Regions from separate parts of the Homo sapiens genome. Here region 2 is linked to region 1. The links come from fine-mapping of genetic effects on gene expression. A gene starts in region 1. The other region holds a variant in brackets. All regions are shown on one strand. Distances are between the middles of the regions. Region 1 holds the start of CFAP91 (cilia and flagella associated protein 91). Region 2 overlaps CFAP91 (cilia and flagella associated protein 91).

Evidence for each region. PIP is the estimated chance that this variant, and not a neighbour inherited with it, causes the effect.
Region 2: its variant is the best candidate, but not a certain one, in a credible set for the expression of CFAP91 in tibial nerve (GTEx, PIP 0.68).

Annotation. Positions count from the first base shown.
Region 1 is chr3:119,700,397-119,704,793 of GRCh38, reverse strand. CFAP91 (cilia and flagella associated protein 91) reads right to left here and starts at 1,772. Exons shown (of 18, transcript NM_033364.4): 1 at 1,572-1,772. The coding sequence starts at 1,695. It overlaps LOC105374064 (a long non-coding RNA gene), which reads left to right and starts at 1,751. Exons shown (of 3, transcript XR_924391.4): 1 at 1,751-2,298; 2 at 3,373-3,602; 3 at 4,377-4,397. RefSeq lists enhancers at 1,454-1,513, 1,564-1,613, 1,607-2,286, 2,953-4,152, 3,872-4,271 and a silencer at 1,724-1,893.
Region 2 is chr3:119,735,192-119,739,588 of GRCh38, reverse strand. CFAP91 (cilia and flagella associated protein 91) reads right to left here. Exons shown (of 18, transcript NM_033364.4): 11 at 2,107-2,223; 12 at 263-334. Among named protein-coding and RNA genes, the nearest start is that of CFAP91, 34 kb to the right of the region's middle. The variant C/T (reference allele first, on the strand shown) is at 2,651.

The DNA.
Region 1 (4,397 bases):
TTGGAGTTTTTCAACTTCATTATAATCTTATGGGACCATCCTTATACATGTAGTCCACTGTTGACCGAAATATCATTACTTGGGGCTTGATTATACATAGAAAGAAGGCTAGAGTTGCCAGATAAAATACAGGATGCCCAGTTAAATTTAAATTCAGATACACAATGAATAATTTTTTAGTATAAATGTGTTCCAAAATATTGCACAGGACAAAAATTTATACTAAAATATTATTCATTATCTGAAATTCAAGCTTAACGGTGCCTCTTGTATTTTTATTTGCTAAATGTGGCAACCCTAACAAGGTGAAAGGTCATAAGGTCAAAGAAAGAAAGCAGGAGAGCACAGCATCTTAGTTCTGATTTTCCCCATCCAGGTTCTCATCCGCCCTGGCTATACTTCGCTTCCTGTCCATGACTAGCGGCGAGATTGTTTTATAACAATCCAAACTTTTATTTGATCTACTCTGAGTGAATTTCTGTTCTTAGCAAGGGACATGGAAACATTTAGCAATTCCTCTGCAAAAGAGACACTTCGGCATCAAAGAAACAACCAGCTTAATAAATACTTTGGGGAGATGTTTGTCCTCCTTCTCAAATTACCCGTGAAAAAAAAACATGGTGATGTGTTTACAGGAGCTAACTTGATTTATTTCACAAAACCAAGAGTAAATACAGAAAAACACTGGCCAGAATATGTCAGCAATCATTACACAGCCTCTATCTAGGAATGTGTACCCTAGATTCCCACACAAAGGAGACTGGGATTCCCAGAGGCAACACCACATTGCTGAAAGCAATGCAAGGTTCAGGTGAAAAACCTGGGATTGCAGAGGGCAAAATTGGAAAAAATCATGCTTATAGCTGGTTACAGTTCTTGCCACGGCAAATTCAATAAACATTTATTTATTGAAGCGCCTAGTATATGTATCAGCACTAGAATAGGTGCTCAGAAGGCTACAAAAATGTGTAGAACAGGAACTTAAGGAACTCAAGGAGCGTGGAGAGAGAGAAAACATAAAATGGACAACCAAGCCGTTAAAATAAACTGGGGTTTTATTGGCCCAAGAGGAGCCAGCGGACCCAGTCTATAAGCAATGCTTTGACGCAGAAGTTAAAAAAAACAAACAACAACAACAACAAAAAACCTAAAAACAAGCATGGGATAAACTGGCACTTCTTTTCGCCCAACTTGGATTTGCCCAGAGAGTTGGAGAGAAAAGATCATTTTTGTAGGGCATTTTATGCAGGAACGTTGAGTGAATCTCCGAGTGTACAAATCGTTGCACACTTTCTGGGTACCAAAACGCCCGGAACAGGTTTCAGGAAAATCGCCCCCCGAAGCGGAGCGCACCCGCGCCTTTCGATGTACCCGAACCCCCGACCCCAACCTGAGTGCGGCCACCTGGAGGGCTCGGAGCTGCCCCCACCCGACCAAGGACAACCGTGGGCAAGAGGTCAGTCCAGAGGGTCGTGTTTCGTTCGCCATGCCCCTGGCCAGGTCCCACCATCTGGGAGCCCACCTGGCCTAGGAGGCGACGGACGCGGAGGAAGGTCTGCGGCGGTCCTTACCGTACAGAAAATCATACGCTCGATTGGAGGAGATGTGGCTCCCAGCCCGCGACCTCTCCCGGTACCGAGTTTGAGACACCTGCGGCTGGGCCTGGGGCTCCTCGATGGTTACTGCGTGGCTCATGGTGCCGCCTCTTTCCTCCCGCCAGCAAGGGACCAGCGGGTCAGGCCTGGCTACTGCGTGCACGTCGCTATGGTAACGGCCGCCGGCGCGCAGGGATAGGGGGCGGGGCAAGGAGGAGGGAGGAGGCCGCGGGGCGGGGCCGAAGAGGAGTGGAGAGAAGTGAAAGCAGGAGTGGCCAGGCCAGGGTCAGGAGGAGAGTGGAGGGGAAGATGAGAAGAGAGGGGAGGGGCAGGATGGGGGAGGAAAAGGCTGGCTTCCCTCTATACTCCAGAGCCAGCGGGGAGGCTGGGAGAAAGCTACTCTTAAGTCATTGATTTGCCAGTTACACCTCGTAGCCTCTCGGAAATCCCTGGGAGATCTCAGAACCTTCTAGAATAATTGGGTGCCTCCCCGCCCCTCCCCCCAGCCCTTTTCCAGGGGGCTTGTCCCGAGAGCTGCGGAATCCAGTCAGGTTCCTAAATGTTGCTCCTTAGCACGCTGTGAACTTTGCCCCACACTCATTAGCATCAGTGTTTAGGATGGGTTAGGACATCAGTAACTGTTGATCTGAGACTGCTGACCCTTTCTGAGTCCTGGGCATTAAATAACAGAAGATGATGTGGGGTAGGCACTGGCTCTGCTTTTGAAAACTATTTATAATGGAAAATTTTAAACATAAGCAAAAGTGATTCTACTTTTAATAACAAACCCTCAAGTAACCCATCCCTCAGAATCAACATTTAGCAACATTTTGCCAATCAAGTTTCAGTTTCCTTCCCCTCTTTTTTAAAGAAATCCTAGACATAATATTATTTTACCCTTAAATTAGTCTGCATCTCAAACTGACATAGATTTTAAAAATTTAACTACCGTTATCATATCTAACAAAATTAACAATAATTCCTTAGTACTATAAATAATTCCAATTTTCCTGTTTGAGTCCAAATTATCTTTTATAGTTGGTTTGTTCCAGTCAAGATCCAAAAAAAGTCCTCATGTTGCATTTTGGTATGTCTCTTAAGTCTTTTATCCTAGAGCAGTGAATTTCTAATCCTTTCAATAATTCTCTATTATTACCAGAGGTTCTTCTATAAAAGGAATCTTTTCATACCAACTCATTGGTTATCCTGAGATAACCAGGATAATCTCATAGAGGAAAGACTGGGTAAATGCTGGATTTGTTCTTTTTAATTATGAAATTTCAGAGACATGAGTTGGTGCCCTACCAAACTCCAGAGTTAACCACAAAGTTTTTGTTTGTTTGATATCATTATGAATGCATGCATTTTTTACAGATCTGATGTTTTAATCCGTTATGATCATTATTATTTATTACACTCAGATTATTAAAGCTAATGGCATGCCTTAGAGTTGGCTTCTTTGTCCTTTAATGTTGAGACGAGAAGTCTTCTTCCGATCAAAGGTTTTTCTCGATCGAAGGGTTCATGGTCTCACAGGCTTCAAGGAATGAAGCCGTGGACCACAGTGGCAAGTGTTACAGCTTCACTAGAGAAATGCGTGGACCCAAAGACTGTGCGGTGGCAAGATTTATTAAAGCCAAAGCAAAAGTAAAGGGAAAGCGAAAGTAAAGCTTCCACGTGGTGGAAGGGAACCTGGAAGGGTTGCCATTTCTGGTTTGGGTATCTTATGTTTATATCCCCTTATGACTCCTCCCCTTTTCCTTTTTCTGTCCCATAGGATTAGGTTATTTTCTATCCACTTGTGGGTTTGTAGCCGGACGAGCCACAGACAAGAACCGCTCAGACACCGAGTTATGGAAGGAAAGGGCTTTATTCAGCTGGGAGCATTGGCGGACTCACATCTTCGAAAACCGAGCTCCCGGAGTGAGCAATTCCTGTCCCTTTTAAGGGCATACAACTCTAAGAGGGTCTGCGTGAGTGGGTCGTGATCGATTGAGCAAGTAGTGGGTATGTGACTGGGAGCTGCATGCACTGGTAATCGGAACAGAACAGAATAGGACAGGGATTTTCACAATGCTTTTCCATACAATGTCTGGAATCTATAGATAACATATCGGTTAGGTCAGGGGTCAATCTGTAACTACCAGGCCCAGAGCACAGTGCTGGGCTGTCTGCCTGTGGATTTCATTTCTGCCTTTTTGTTTTAAATTCTTCTTTCTTTGGAGGCAGAAATTGGGCATAACACAATATGAGGGGTGGTCTCCTCTCTTAGGTTGGTGGGCCTGATTGGTTAAAAACATCAGGCTGCAGCTAGAGCTTAAACTCTCTATATGATTGGCTGAAGTTTCAATCCCTTAATTTGCAGCTGGGACTCACTTTGGCTTAGGGGAAAGTCCCCTTTGATTGGTTGAAGTTTCAATCCCTTAGCTTGCAGCTATGACTCATTTTGGCTTAGGGGAAAGTCCCCTTAGGGAAGTCCCTATTGAACCAGGAAGTCCAGCCAACTTAGCCACTTAGTCCCTCAATGTGATCCACAGACACTTCCTGAATACGCTTCCTGGCCTACTACTCTTTCTGCATATACTCCTGGTTTTAACTTATTGTCTCTACTCCTAAACTTCTTGGGGTTTTTGAAAACCAGCCATGTCCTAGGTCTGTCTGTGTACTTTCTTGTAAAATCCAGTTTTAGCAAAGAACCGTGCTATGTCAGTTTGGTAAGAATCCCCCATCCTAGATATCTGACTGGGGTCCTCATCCTTCGCTTTCGCTTTTCACCCCCAGGTGAAGTCTGATTACCCTGGC
Region 2 (4,397 bases), 35 kb before region 1:
CATACTGCCTTAGTTACAACCATGGCAAATAGCAGGTAGGTCCTCCCTGTCTCTCTCCTTGACACTGTGCCACCCACCTGGACAAATGATGCCATTAGAAGGAAATGGGTCACCAGAAGGAAATGGGTAGGCAACTCAAGAGTTTAGCTGAATAGGATAGCAGGGTGCAAAAGGGATTCACTCCAAGGAACCAAGCACATATGCATTCTAAAAAATTTATTCTCAAAAGAGAAATGCAGGGCCAGCGGTTGGACCTACACACCATGTTCTGAACGACTCTGCCCCGGAGTAACTTTTGAAGGTAGATCACAGCCATTTCCATTTCTTCTTCTTCCTAAAAGAACAAAGGGAGAACCAAGCAGCTTGAGAACTGCAGTAGTCCAAGCATCAAATATTCTTTTGAAGACTTATTTCAAGCAAAACAGACTGTGCTAGATGCCAAAAAGATTTAAAGAGAAATAAAAGATGGTCCCTGCCCTTATTGAACATATAGTATTTTAATGTTACTTACATTAGAATTCATTATTTTTCATCATTAACAAATCATATTACAAGCAAAAAATTCACTCCCTGCCATGCTATCCCTACAAATGAAACCACTTTCATTTCCCTATATTCCTTTCCAGCAAAATATTTCTTAAAGCAACAAGTATTGCATATAACATCATTTTGCAATAGGATTTTTCATGTTTGATCATCAGTAGACACAAATACAGCTAGTCTATGTCAGAGTAAGGTACTTCTCACAAGAATTTAGCTATGCTGATAAAATCAGAATATAAGAGACAAGGTTAGCCATCTATAAAAATCATCTTAAAAACTCTGTGTCCAAAGCAGAAAAAGCAGGGTCTGGAAATCGAATTAAGATTCCTTTGAATGTAAAAAGAAAACAGCAGTCTAATCGATGACATTAACACACATGAAAGACGATGTGTTGTCAGGCTGGGCACAGTGGCTCATGCCTGTAATCCTAGCACTTTGGGAGGCCAGGGCAGGTGGATCACCTGAGGTCAAGAGTTTGAGACAAGCCTGGCCAACATGGCAACACCCCATCTCTACTAAAACTATAAAAATTAGCTGGGTGTGGTGACACATGCCTGTAGTTCCAGCTACTCATAAGGCTGACGCAGGAGAATCGCTTGAACCCAGGAGGCAGAGGTTGCAGTGAGCCAAGGTTGCACCACTGCACTTCAGCCTGGGTGACAGAACGAGATTCTGTCTCAAAAAAAAAAAAAAAAAAAAAAAAAAAAAAAAAAGACAATATGTCAACCAAAGCCCTGCACAAAGTCTAGAAAAGAGAATGTTATCCAGCAGCACATCCCCGCTGGCTGGTGGGAGCTTTCTGGTCCCTCTGCAGGAGCCACTCATCAGAGGTAGTAACAGGTGTTAGCATGGTCTCCCACCAACACCTGCCCTCAGCCAAGAAACACATCAGCCTTCTGAATACAATCTGGCTTCTTGTGAGGACTGTCCCATACTGAGAGATAATGTGCTGACCAGCCAAGAGGAACAGCCTGATCCAGTAGGCAGTTATAGTTCTCTCTGTAAAGTAATAAATTTGCATCATGGCATCTCTAACAGTTTCCTGTGGATTTGTTTAGTCTGAGTCAGCCCTCTAAATCCTAACCAACTCTGATACTTTGCTCAAATTGAGTCTGGTGAGATGTGGCCCTGGGCAGGGCTCTTTGAGTCATTCCCACCCCAGAAGCAAGTCCGTCTTGATGACACCTCTGGCATTTCATTCCTCTTCGACTCCAACAGTCATCAGCCATCTCTCCATGTGGGAAGATAGCTATGGTAGCTGATCATCACTCAATCTTCTTTTTCTATTTCATATACATGAGCACTACCTTCTGATGCTGATTTTTCATGGAAAGATTTTTTAAATTGTGTTTTTATTTTTGAGAAGGACTGGGTTTAGATTTCATTTCATCTCGTTTGTTTTTCTGTGTCTGATGTTTGATACATAAGAATAAAGACAATATTTAAGTCAGAGCTTGGGAAACTAACACTGCTAAATTAGATTTGCTTTAAGCTAAACTATCCTAAGAATAAGCTGACAATGATATTGAATTTAGCATTTCAACTAAAAAGTTTCCAACTTACATTGGACGTCATTTCCAAGGTTGGAGTTGGAAGCCGAGGTTGAGGTATTGGGTTTCTTTGAAGGAAGCGAGGGGGTTTCTTTACTTCAAGAACTTTATTCTTCTTATCCAACAGTGCCTGAAATAATGCCAATTAATATAATCTCTTTTTTTAACAAAAATTTGCATAAATTTAAGAGGTAAAAGTGCAGTTTTTTACATGAATGTATTACATAATGGTGAAATCTAGGCTTTTAGCATACCCATCACCTGAATAATGTATATTGTACCCTATATTTTCCTTCATTACCAGATCTAGGTCACAGATATAAATATTAATCAGAATATTAATATTCTCTATGGTGATGCTAGGTCAGCTTGAGAAACACTAACAAGAATGTGTGTATCTCTCAAGACGTGCTATGATATTCCTAAAAATATATTAACCGACCAGCCTGATGACCAACATAGAGAAACCCCATCTCTACTAAAAATACAAAATTAGCCGGGCATGGTGGTGCATGCCTGTAATCCCAGCTACTCGGGAGGCTGAGGCAGGAGAATCA[C/T]CTGAACCTGGGAGGCAGAAATTGCAGTGAGCTGAGATTGCACCATTGCACTCCAGCCTGGGCAACAAGAGCAAAACTTCATCTCAAAAAACAAAAAAAAAAGTTAACCACTGACTAGACATGGTTATATTCTTGGTGTATTCATCAAATGATGAGTAGATAAATAAAATGTGGTATATCCACACAATGGAATGTTACACAATCATAAAAAAAGAATGAAGTACTGAGATGTGTTAAAACCTGGATGAACCTTAAAAATACTATGCTAAGTGAAAGAAGCCAGACGCAAAAGGCCATATACTGCATGACTCCATGTATATGAAATGTCCAGAATAGGCAAATCCATAAAAAGAAAGTAGAATAGGCCGGGCGCGGTGGCTCACGCCTGCGATCCCAGCACTTTGGGAGGCCGAGGAGGGTGGATCACGAGGTCAGGAGATCAAGACCATCCTGGCTAACACGGTGAAACCCCGTCTCTACTAAAAATACAAAAAAAAAAATTAGCCAGGCGTGGTGGTGGGCGCCTGTAGTCCCAGCTACTCAGGAGGCTGAGGCAGGAGAATGGCGTCAACCTGGGAGGCAGAGCTTGCAGTGAGCGGAGATCGCACCACTGCCCTCCAGCCTGACAAACAGAGTGAGATTCCAACTCAAAAAAAAAAAAAAAAAAAAACAATAGAAAGAAAGTAGAATAGTGGTTGCCAGGGGCTGAGGGGAAGGGGGAATTGGAAGTGAGCACTATTAGGCATGGGGTTTGTTTTGGGGATGACAAAAATATTCTGGAATTAGATAGTGGTGATGGTTGCACAGATTTGTAAATATGCTAAAAACTACTGAATTATATATTTTTAAAGGGTGATTTTATTGTGTGCGAATTACATTCCCCCCGCTCCCCAAAATAAAGGGGCAAACAAAAACTGAAGGAATTCATGGCCAGCAGACATTCCCTGCAAGAAATTATAAAAAAAAAAAAGTTCTTCAGGCAGGAGAAAAATGTTATAGATCAAAAACTTAGATCGATATAAGTATAAGAAGAGCAGAAGAGAAGGAATAAATAAAATATATTGTTGTTCTTATTTTTAATCTAAAAGATAACTGTTAACTAAAGCAATAAAAGTAAAAAAGTATTGGCTGATTATATATAGCACTTGGACGAGTGAAATGAATGACAGGAATATCACAGGGAAGGGAAGAAGGAGTTGGGAATAATCTGCTCTAAGGTGCCTGCTCTACCCATCAAGTGGCACAGTGTGATTTGAAGATGTACTTTTATTATTTTACATGTATAATCATATACTGGTCCACAAAGCAAGCCTCATGAAATTTCAAAGGATAGGTATCACACAGACTATGACCTCTGATCACAATGCAATTGAGTTAGAGGTTAATGAGAAAATGAGTTAAAATTCCTGCATATTTGGAAATTTTAAAACACACTATTAAATACTCACAGATTAAAAAATCATAATGGGTTTTTTGATATTAGAAATTAAGAATGACAAATACTACATATCAAAACTAATGAAATGTACCAAAAGTCAGTATTTTGAAGGAAATGTTTAACCTAAAATACTTATATAAAACAGATGAATGCCTGAAACTGATGAGCTACATGTGCAATTTAAGGTAAGACCTGTGAAACAAACCCTAAAAAAGTAGAAAGAAATATAGAATAAATATAGGAGTATAAATTAATGTGATTAAAAATATAACACAGAAAATCAACAAAATCAAAAGTTCATTGTTTGGA